Linked DNA regions of Homo sapiens: region 1 is reported to be linked to region 2. Evidence: microRNA targets listed by miRTarBase, many of them from high-throughput screens and not tested one by one. Region 2 holds a microRNA gene; the other region holds the end of a gene's coding sequence.

What was found. Region 2 holds the annotated microRNA hsa-miR-1277-5p (AAAUAUAUAUAUAUAUGUACGUAU, at 2,524-2,547, shown strand). A microRNA usually pairs through its seed, bases 2 to 8, with sites in the 3' UTR of a target mRNA and lowers its output. Matches are read on the target gene's strand: a 7mer-m8 pairs with bases 2 to 8, a 7mer-A1 pairs with bases 2 to 7 and ends in A, and an 8mer does both.
Region 1: miRTarBase lists AKR1D1 as a target of hsa-miR-1277-5p. Seed matches in the 3' UTR shown: 7mer-m8 at 1,460-1,466, 7mer-m8 at 1,490-1,496, 7mer-m8 at 1,706-1,712, 7mer-m8 at 2,023-2,029 and 7mer-m8 at 2,142-2,148.

Annotation. Positions count from the first base shown.
Region 1 is chr7:138,116,021-138,120,020 of GRCh38, forward strand. AKR1D1 (aldo-keto reductase family 1 member D1) reads left to right here. Exons shown (of 9, transcript NM_005989.4): 9 at 600-2,285. The coding sequence ends at 642. Among named protein-coding and RNA genes, the nearest start is that of MIR4468, 5.7 kb to the right of the region's middle.
Region 2 is chrX:118,383,878-118,388,028 of GRCh38, forward strand. MIR1277 (microRNA 1277) reads left to right here and starts at 2,517; the gene lies at 2,517-2,594. It overlaps WDR44 (WD repeat domain 44), which reads left to right. Exons shown (of 20, transcript NM_019045.5): 3 at 3,463-3,537.

The DNA of each region.
Region 1 (4,000 bases), not on the chromosome of region 2:
AGTTCAGCTTGGGCAACCGTGGTGGCACATACCTATAATCCCTGCTACTTGGGAGGCTGAGGCAGGAGGCTTGCTTGGGAGCCCAGGAGTTTGAGGCTGCAGTGAGCTATGATCATGCCACTGCACTCCAACCTGAGTGACAGAGTGAGATTCCATCTGTAAAAAAAAGAAGAAAAAAATGCTAATCAGCAGAGGGTGACACTGGTAATAAGAGTTTTGAAGAGAAATGCCCATGTAGTGGATTGGAGAAGGAGGCAGCCAGCGTCAAGGGAACAGAAAGGGGGAAGGAGTAGGGAAGAGGCATGTGCACATGACATGCCTAAGACATGATTCACCACTGGGGATTCTGTTCTGAGTAAAATGTTGATAAGGTGGCCACCAACCTTCCCTCAACACACTCACATTCAGGAGGCTGTCCAGAGCTTCAGGAAAAGGTGCTGGCTTGAGGGAAAACAGAAGAGGAAAGTAGGTAAGAAACAGCAGAGGAATGAATAGGAGAGAGGGGTAGTGGTCAGTGAAATTCTCAAAGGATGCTATTGAAACATACAGCTGTGCAATTTTTGAGTGAACTTTTTTCTGTGGGGGAATTGTTTTGGCAGGTGGCGCGATCATCCTGAATACCCATTTCATGATGAATACTGACTGCAGGGAGTTCCTGAACAGATTTTTCACTCCCACGAGTGCCAAGACGGTGCAATGGGTAGTCCCCTAGATGTGAAAATGAAGAGAGAGGGTTTTACCATCCTGAGAAGAAATAATGATGGAAACATGTTTAATGTTTGTGCAGTGTAAATGACTTTGACTCAGTCACATTGAAGTAAAAATATTAAAATCTGTTGAAATAACTCTTAGGAAATTATCAACTAATTTTTTCAGATCAGTATCTTCTAGATTCCAGACAGAAAAAAATTACACTTCAGAAAAGACATCAAAGGCAACATATGACAACAAGTAATTTATGAATCTGGGTAGTAGCGTTGGTAATCTGAGTTCTTTAAGGGTTAACAGGACAACGAAGTGCATGTGGCAGTGTGCTGGCAGTGGCCTTGAGGCTTTGGACCATTGGTTACAAAACAGACACAGCCAAGATAAGATCCACACACACATTATTAACAAGGAAGTGATTTGCTGCACCTTGAGTTGAGAGGGCTACATGTAGAAAAGTCTTAAAATAGAGCTAAACACCACAGTGGTCAACAAAGCCATCATAATGTTGGTGTTTGTTTCCCTCCAATGTATGTATGTTTAGTTTTTATCCAACCTGAGGAATGAAAACTTAACTGGATCTCTCTTGCATCCTTAAAGGGCCTGAGTCTCAACATGGCTGCTGATCCATACTTACACATCTTACTGTCAATCTTGCCTACATTGATTATAGAACCACTATTACGTGAAAAGGCTTGAAACAACCAACATATACAAATAAAACCCTGCCTTGTAAAATAGTAAAAGAGAAGCCATATATTGGCTTTTCTTCTTAACTTGGGAGATATATTGAAACAAGGTGCTTTATAAGATTATTGTACTTAAGACTTTAATAGTGTTACTTGGATAGCTTATATGAATTTTGAGAATTTTATATGAATTTTGAGAAAGCAAGTTCAAAAGAACTCTGGTAATTTTCCTGTATGTACAATTTAAAGAGTGAATAAGATTATTAGAATTCAGCAATAGAGATATATCTATTTTCAATTCAACTACAGAAATATATTTTATTGGCCGGGTGCGGTGGCTCATGCCTATAATCCCAGCACTTTGGGAGGCCAAGGTGGGCAGATCAGGAGGTCAGGAGATCGAGACCATCTTGGCTAACAAGGTGAAACCCCGTCTCTACTAAAAATACAAAAAATTAGCCAGGCGCGGTGGCGGGGGCCTGTAATCCCAGCTACTCAGGAGGCTGAGGCAGAAGAATGGCATGAACCCGGGAGGAGGAGCTTGCAGTGAGCCGAGATAGCGCCACTGCAGTCCGGCCTGGGTGAAAGAGCGAGACTCCGTCTCAAAAACAAAAAAAAAAGAAAAGAAATATATTTTATTCATTCACATTAGGTCACTGTCATACTGTCATAGGATGAGAGAGTTCTTCAAAAATTATGTTTTCCCAAGATCAGTTGCTTATAGATAATGTTCAATGACCTCAAGACATATATTTTTGAGAAATTATCATTTTAAAAAATTTGGTCTATACTGATTGTTTTCACTGATTCCAATATTATTACTTATAACACTGACCTCTGGAAAATATTTTGTTCACAAGAAATAATAAAGTATAATGATTTGTTGCATCACATGAATCTCCATTCTGTTTCTAAGGTTGGGGCAGGGGAAGAATCATCTGAAGCCAGTTAAAAGGCCTTTGATTTAATCCTGCTGTACATTTAGCACTGGGAAGAGAGGAAAGAAAAGGGGATGTGGTGGCTCATGCCTATAATACCAGCAATTTGAGAGGCCAAGGCAGGTGGATGGCATGAACCCAGGAGTTCAAGACCAGCCTGGAACAACATGGCAAAACCCCATCTCTACCAAAAAAAAAAAAAAAAAAATACAAAAATTAGCCAGGAATGGTGGCACACACCTGTAGTCCCAGCTACTCAGGAGGCTGCTATGGGAGGATCACTTGGGTTGGGGAGGCAGAGGTTGCAGTGAGCCAAGATTGTGCCACTGCACTCGAGCCTGGGTGACAGAGTGAGATTCTGTCTCAAAAAAAAGGAAAGATTGAAGGAAGGAAGGGGAAAAAGGAAGGAAGGAAGGAAAAAAGAAAGGAAGGAAGGGAGGGAGGGGAAAGAAAAAGGAAGGAAGGAAGGGAGGGAGGGAGGGAGGGAGGGGAAAGAAAAAGAAGGAGGGAGCCGGGCGCGGTGGCTCACGCCTGTAATCCCAGCACTTTGAGAGGCCGAGGCGGGCGGATCAAGAGGTCAGGAGATCGAGGCCATCCTGGCTAACATGTTGAAACCCTGTCTCTACTAAAAATACAAAAAATTAGCCGGGCATGGTAGCGGGCGCCTGTAGTCCCAGCCACTCGGGAGGCTGAGGCAGGAGAATGGCGCGAACTCAGGAGGCGGAGATTGCAGTGAGCCGAGATCATGCCACTACACTCCAGCCTGGGCGACAGAGCAAGATTCCGTCTCAAAAAAAGAGAAAAAGAAGGAAGGAAAGAAAGAAGGAAGGAAGGAAGGAAGGAGGGAAGGAAGGAAGGAAGGGAGGGAGGGAGGGAGGCAGGCAGAGAGGGAGGTATGGAAGGAGTGACGGAGGGAGGAAGGAAGAAGAAAAAGGTGGTACCATTATGAAAGAGCAGAAACTTGAGTCCTGGTCCCTGTTGTGAAAGTCCTTAAAAATACTTTGAGGGTATTAGTGTAGAGGTGAGAATGGAAACAACACCTATCGAAGCATTTTTAAAAGACAGACATTGGAAAAGAGTCCCATCATTTGTCAGCGAAAAGGTATTTCTAAAAATTGGGGGAGCGAAATCCTCTCTTAGTCATAACAGAGATGGAGGAAAAAGATCTGGAGACAGAAAGTAGGAAGGTCAGGAAAGAACAACAGTCTGATGGAAGCTTCTGCATGTTCCTTCTCCCTCCACTGTCACCCCTCTCAAGCTTCCCATCTGTTATGGGTTGAACTGTGTCCTCTCAAAATTCATATGTTAAAAAGCCCAGACCCCAGTACCTCAGAATGTGATCTTATATAAAAATAGGGCCAGGTGTGGTGGCTCTTGCCTGTTATCTCAGCTATTTGAGAGGCTAAGGTGGAAGGATCACTTGAGGCCAGGAGTTTGAGACCACCCTGGTCAACAGAGTGATACCTTATCTCTACAAAAATTTTAAAATTAGCTGGATATGGTTGTGTACACATGGCTGGTTGTGCACACACATAGCACCCAGCTATTTGGGTGGCTGAGGCAGGAGGACTGTGTGAGCCTAGGAGTTTGAGGCTGAAGTGAGCTATGATCATGCCACTGCACTCTAGCTTGGATGACAAAGCAAGACCTCATCTCTTAAACATAAAT
Region 2 (4,151 bases):
CTTTTTTTTTTTTTTTTTTTGAGACAGGGTCTTGCTTTCTTCCCCAGGCTGGAATGCAGTGGCATTATCATAGCTCACTGCAGCCTCAGGCTCCTAGGCTCAAGTAGTCCTCCCACAACAACCTCCAAAGTAGCTGGGACTGCAGGCACATACCACCATGCTTGGCTAATTATTATTTTTTTTAGAGGCGAGGTCTCACTGTGTTGCCCAGGCTGGTCTCAAACTCCGGGTTTCAGCCTGTGCCCGGCCTTCTTTCATATAAAACCAGGATCCAATTAAAGCCTATGTAAACTTAAGATGTATGTATTAACTGAAGAAAAAACAGAGCATGCATCATTCAACATTCATTCAGCAAATGATTATTTAGTGCTGGACACTGTTTTAGGTACTGAACAAACTGTAGATAGAACAAACAAGGTCCATCTCTCATGGAGCTTACATTCTAGTGGGACAGGGAAGAGACAAAAAATAAGCAAGTAAATAAGGTCATTTCGAACGATAAGTGCAATGAAGGAAAATAGGATAATGTTTTCCCAGCACCATTTATTGAGTAGGGAAGCCTTTCCCCATTCTTTGTTTTCATCAGGTTTGTCGAAGATCAGATAGTTGTAGGTGTGCGGTCTTATTTCTGTATTCTCTATTCTGTTCTATTGGTCTGTGTGTCTCTTTTTGTACCAGTACCATGCTGTTTGGTAACTGTAGCACTGTAGCATAGTTTGAAGTCGGGTAGCATGATGCCTCCAGCTTTGTTCTTTTTGCTTAGGATTTGCCTTGGCTATTCAGGCTCTTTTTTGGTTCCCTATGAATTTTAAAATAAAATTTCCTAGTTCTGTGAAGAATCTCAGTGGTAGTTTAATAGTAATGGCATTAAGTCTATACATTGCCTTGGGCAGTGTGGCCATTTTAACGATATTGATTCTTCCTATCCATGAGCTTGGAATGTTTTTCCATTTGTTTGTGTCATCTCTGGTTTCTTTGAGCAGTGGTTTGTAGTTCTCCTTTCACCTCCCTAGTTAGCTGTATTCATAGGTATTTTCTTTTCGTGGCAATTGCAAATGATGGGAGTTTATTCCTGATTTGGCTCTCTGCTTGGCTGTTATTAGTGTATAATAATGCTAGTGATTTTTGCACATTTATTTTGTATCCTGAGACTTTGTTGAAGTTGTTTATCAGCTTAAGAATCTTTTGGGCTGAGACTATGGGTTATCTAGATATAAGATCATGTTGTCTGCAAACAGGGATAGTTTGACATCCTCTCCTCAATCCCATTACTGGGTATATACCCAAAGGAATATAAATCATTCTATTATAAAGACACATGCACACACATGTTCATTGCAGCACTATTCACAATAGCAAAGACATGAAATCAACCTAAATGCCCATCAATGATAGACTGGATAAAGAAAATGTAGTACATATACACCATGGAATACTATGCAGCCATAAAAAAGAACGAGATCATGTCCTTTGCAGGGCCATGGATGGAGCTGGAGGCCATTATCCTTAGCAAATCAATGCAGGAACAGAAAACCAAATACTGCATGTTCTCACTTATAGGTGGGAGCTAAATGATGTGGACACATGAACCCATAGAGGGGAACAACACATGTTGAGGCCTATCAGAGGGTGAAGGGTGGGAGGAGGGAGAGGATCAGGAAAAATGACTAATGTGTACTAGGCTTAATACCTGGGTGATGAAATAATCTGTGCAACAAAACCCCATGACACAAGTTTACCTGTGTAACAAATCTGCACATGTACCCCTGAACTTAAAGTTAAAAAAAAAAAGAAAAATAGGATAATGTGATAGAAAGTTAAGGAGTCAGCTAAGGCTATTTTGAGATGGTCAGGGAAGTATTTTCTGATAAAATAGCACTTGAGCTATGACCCTAATGGCAAGGAATCATCCTATTGGCCAGAATGTAATTGTGGGGGAGTGATATGAGAGGGAGATGAGGAGTGTAGAAGATATCAAAAATGTAGGCAGAGGCTATGTCATGTTTAGGCCTTCATGGGCCTTGGTACTGTTTGGATTTTATCTAATACTTAAGAGTCCATGAAACATTTTTTTTTTTCTAGAAGAATCTGTGTAAGATTGGTAGTATTCTCCAAATTCTGGGGGAGGAATTCAGTGCTCGAAGATATTGCAAGTCCTACAGAAATTTCACTGGCACGTTAAATCTTTAACATTTTAATAATCTCTGGAGTAATTTCATTATTGAGCCTATTGTGATCATATCCTGATACTTGTATAAGTGCCACCTAAATAATTAATGTGCCTTGAGTCCTTTATCTGTCTAAAATGGTTATAATGACCTTCCTCTAACAAACTCTGTGATGTGCACAAAGAATTATGGTTTTTTTTCCTCAGTATCAAGAGTAGCATTCAAATTGCTGTGCTTCTATAAATAGACAACTTAAGATTGAGAAGAGTATTGTATTGAGATTTGCAAATATATGATTGTCTTATTTTACCCTAATTTTTTCCAGCAGAAATGCAGTATCCATTTCTAACCTCCCAAATATATATATATATGTACGTATGTGTATATAAATGTATACGTAGATATATATGTATTTTTGGTGGGTTTAATTTTTTTCATCTTTTTTCATAGTTTTTTTAGGGGCTTCATTTAACTTCTGGTTAAGTCTTGATTTCTTTTATCTAAAGCATGTAGAATTTTAAGAAAACTATTCCCTGAATGTGGTTTTCTGTGTTATAAACTTTTGTATTTGTGCATATTTATGGAGCAATGCTTTGGGGAAAATAACAATTTTTATTCAGCCCCTTGCTTAAATCCTTAATCCTTTTTAGCTATAAAAGTACGTAGAAGTTCTTATCGTCCATTACAGTTTTTTAATGTTAAAAAGTTGAGCAAGTTTTCACATTTAAAGGTAAATATCCTATTGCAGAATAATAGAATATTGCTGATGGGTAACTTTCTTATGCAAATTACATTGTCCCATTTGGCATAAAATTTCTGAGCATCTATCAGTATTCAGAAATCTAAGCCCTTTAGGCTGGGCACAGTGGCTCACACCTATAATCCCAGCACTTTGGGAGGCTGAGGTGGGTAGATCACTTGAGGTCAGGAGTTCAAGACCAGCCTGGCCAACAAGGTGAAACTCTGTCTGTACTAAAATTACAAAAATTAGCCAGGTGTGGTGGCACGCGCCTATAATCCCAGCTACTCGGGAGGCTGAGGCAGGAGAATCACTTGAACCCGGGAAGCAGAGGTTGCAGTGAGCCAGGATTGTGCCACTGCACTCCAGCCTGGGTGACAGAGTAAAACTCTGTCTCAAAAAAAAAAAAAAAAAAAAAAGAAGAAGAAGAAATCAAAGCCCTTTAAGGGCCTTTGATTTATTAATGCTACATTTTCTCATTTGTACCCCTTTAAAGCATATTTTTAAAGAAAAGATGTCATCATTTGGTCTCTATTTCTTTTCTTTTTCAAACAGGAAACAGAGAACACTGCATACAAAGTTGGAAATGAGTCCCCTGTACAAGAATTGAAACAAGATGTGTCTAAAAAGGTTGGAAAGATACAATGTCAATATTAGTTTATAGCAGACATCATATTTATATGGTATATTTCAAACAGCTTTTATATTCTTTTAGTATAGCGCTCTGTACATGGCTGATGTTCAGCAAATGTTTCATGAATCTGTCACATTTGTGGTTGAAGACATTTCAGTCTTTTTAGAAGTCCTTTTCATATTCTAATTGGTAATTTATCCTTGAGACAATATTTTGTAAAATGCTTTTATTTTTTGTTCTTGTATTTTTATCAGAATAAGCCCTAACTCTTCTTGAGGTTACTACCAGGAGTTATGGGTATTGAAAAGCTCAGTGCAGCAACATTCTGATGTCTTTAGGAATCAGAAGTTATAAGAAGTCCTTACTCTGATAGTACCTGATACCTTTTAAAAAATTGATGCTATGAAGCTTCAAAGGTTGGTTTACTAGAAGAGACTGAGCACAAGATCAGTATTTTGAAAATGGGCAGTTTACAGTATCAGGATAAAACTCAAGGAGAAAGACAGGATGGTGTGTTTTTATTCATTTATACAAGTTTTAAGTGTTTTCTGTGCCCTAGGCAATGTTCTAGCCAGTGGGTTTCCAGAGGCTAACAAAATGACACATTCTC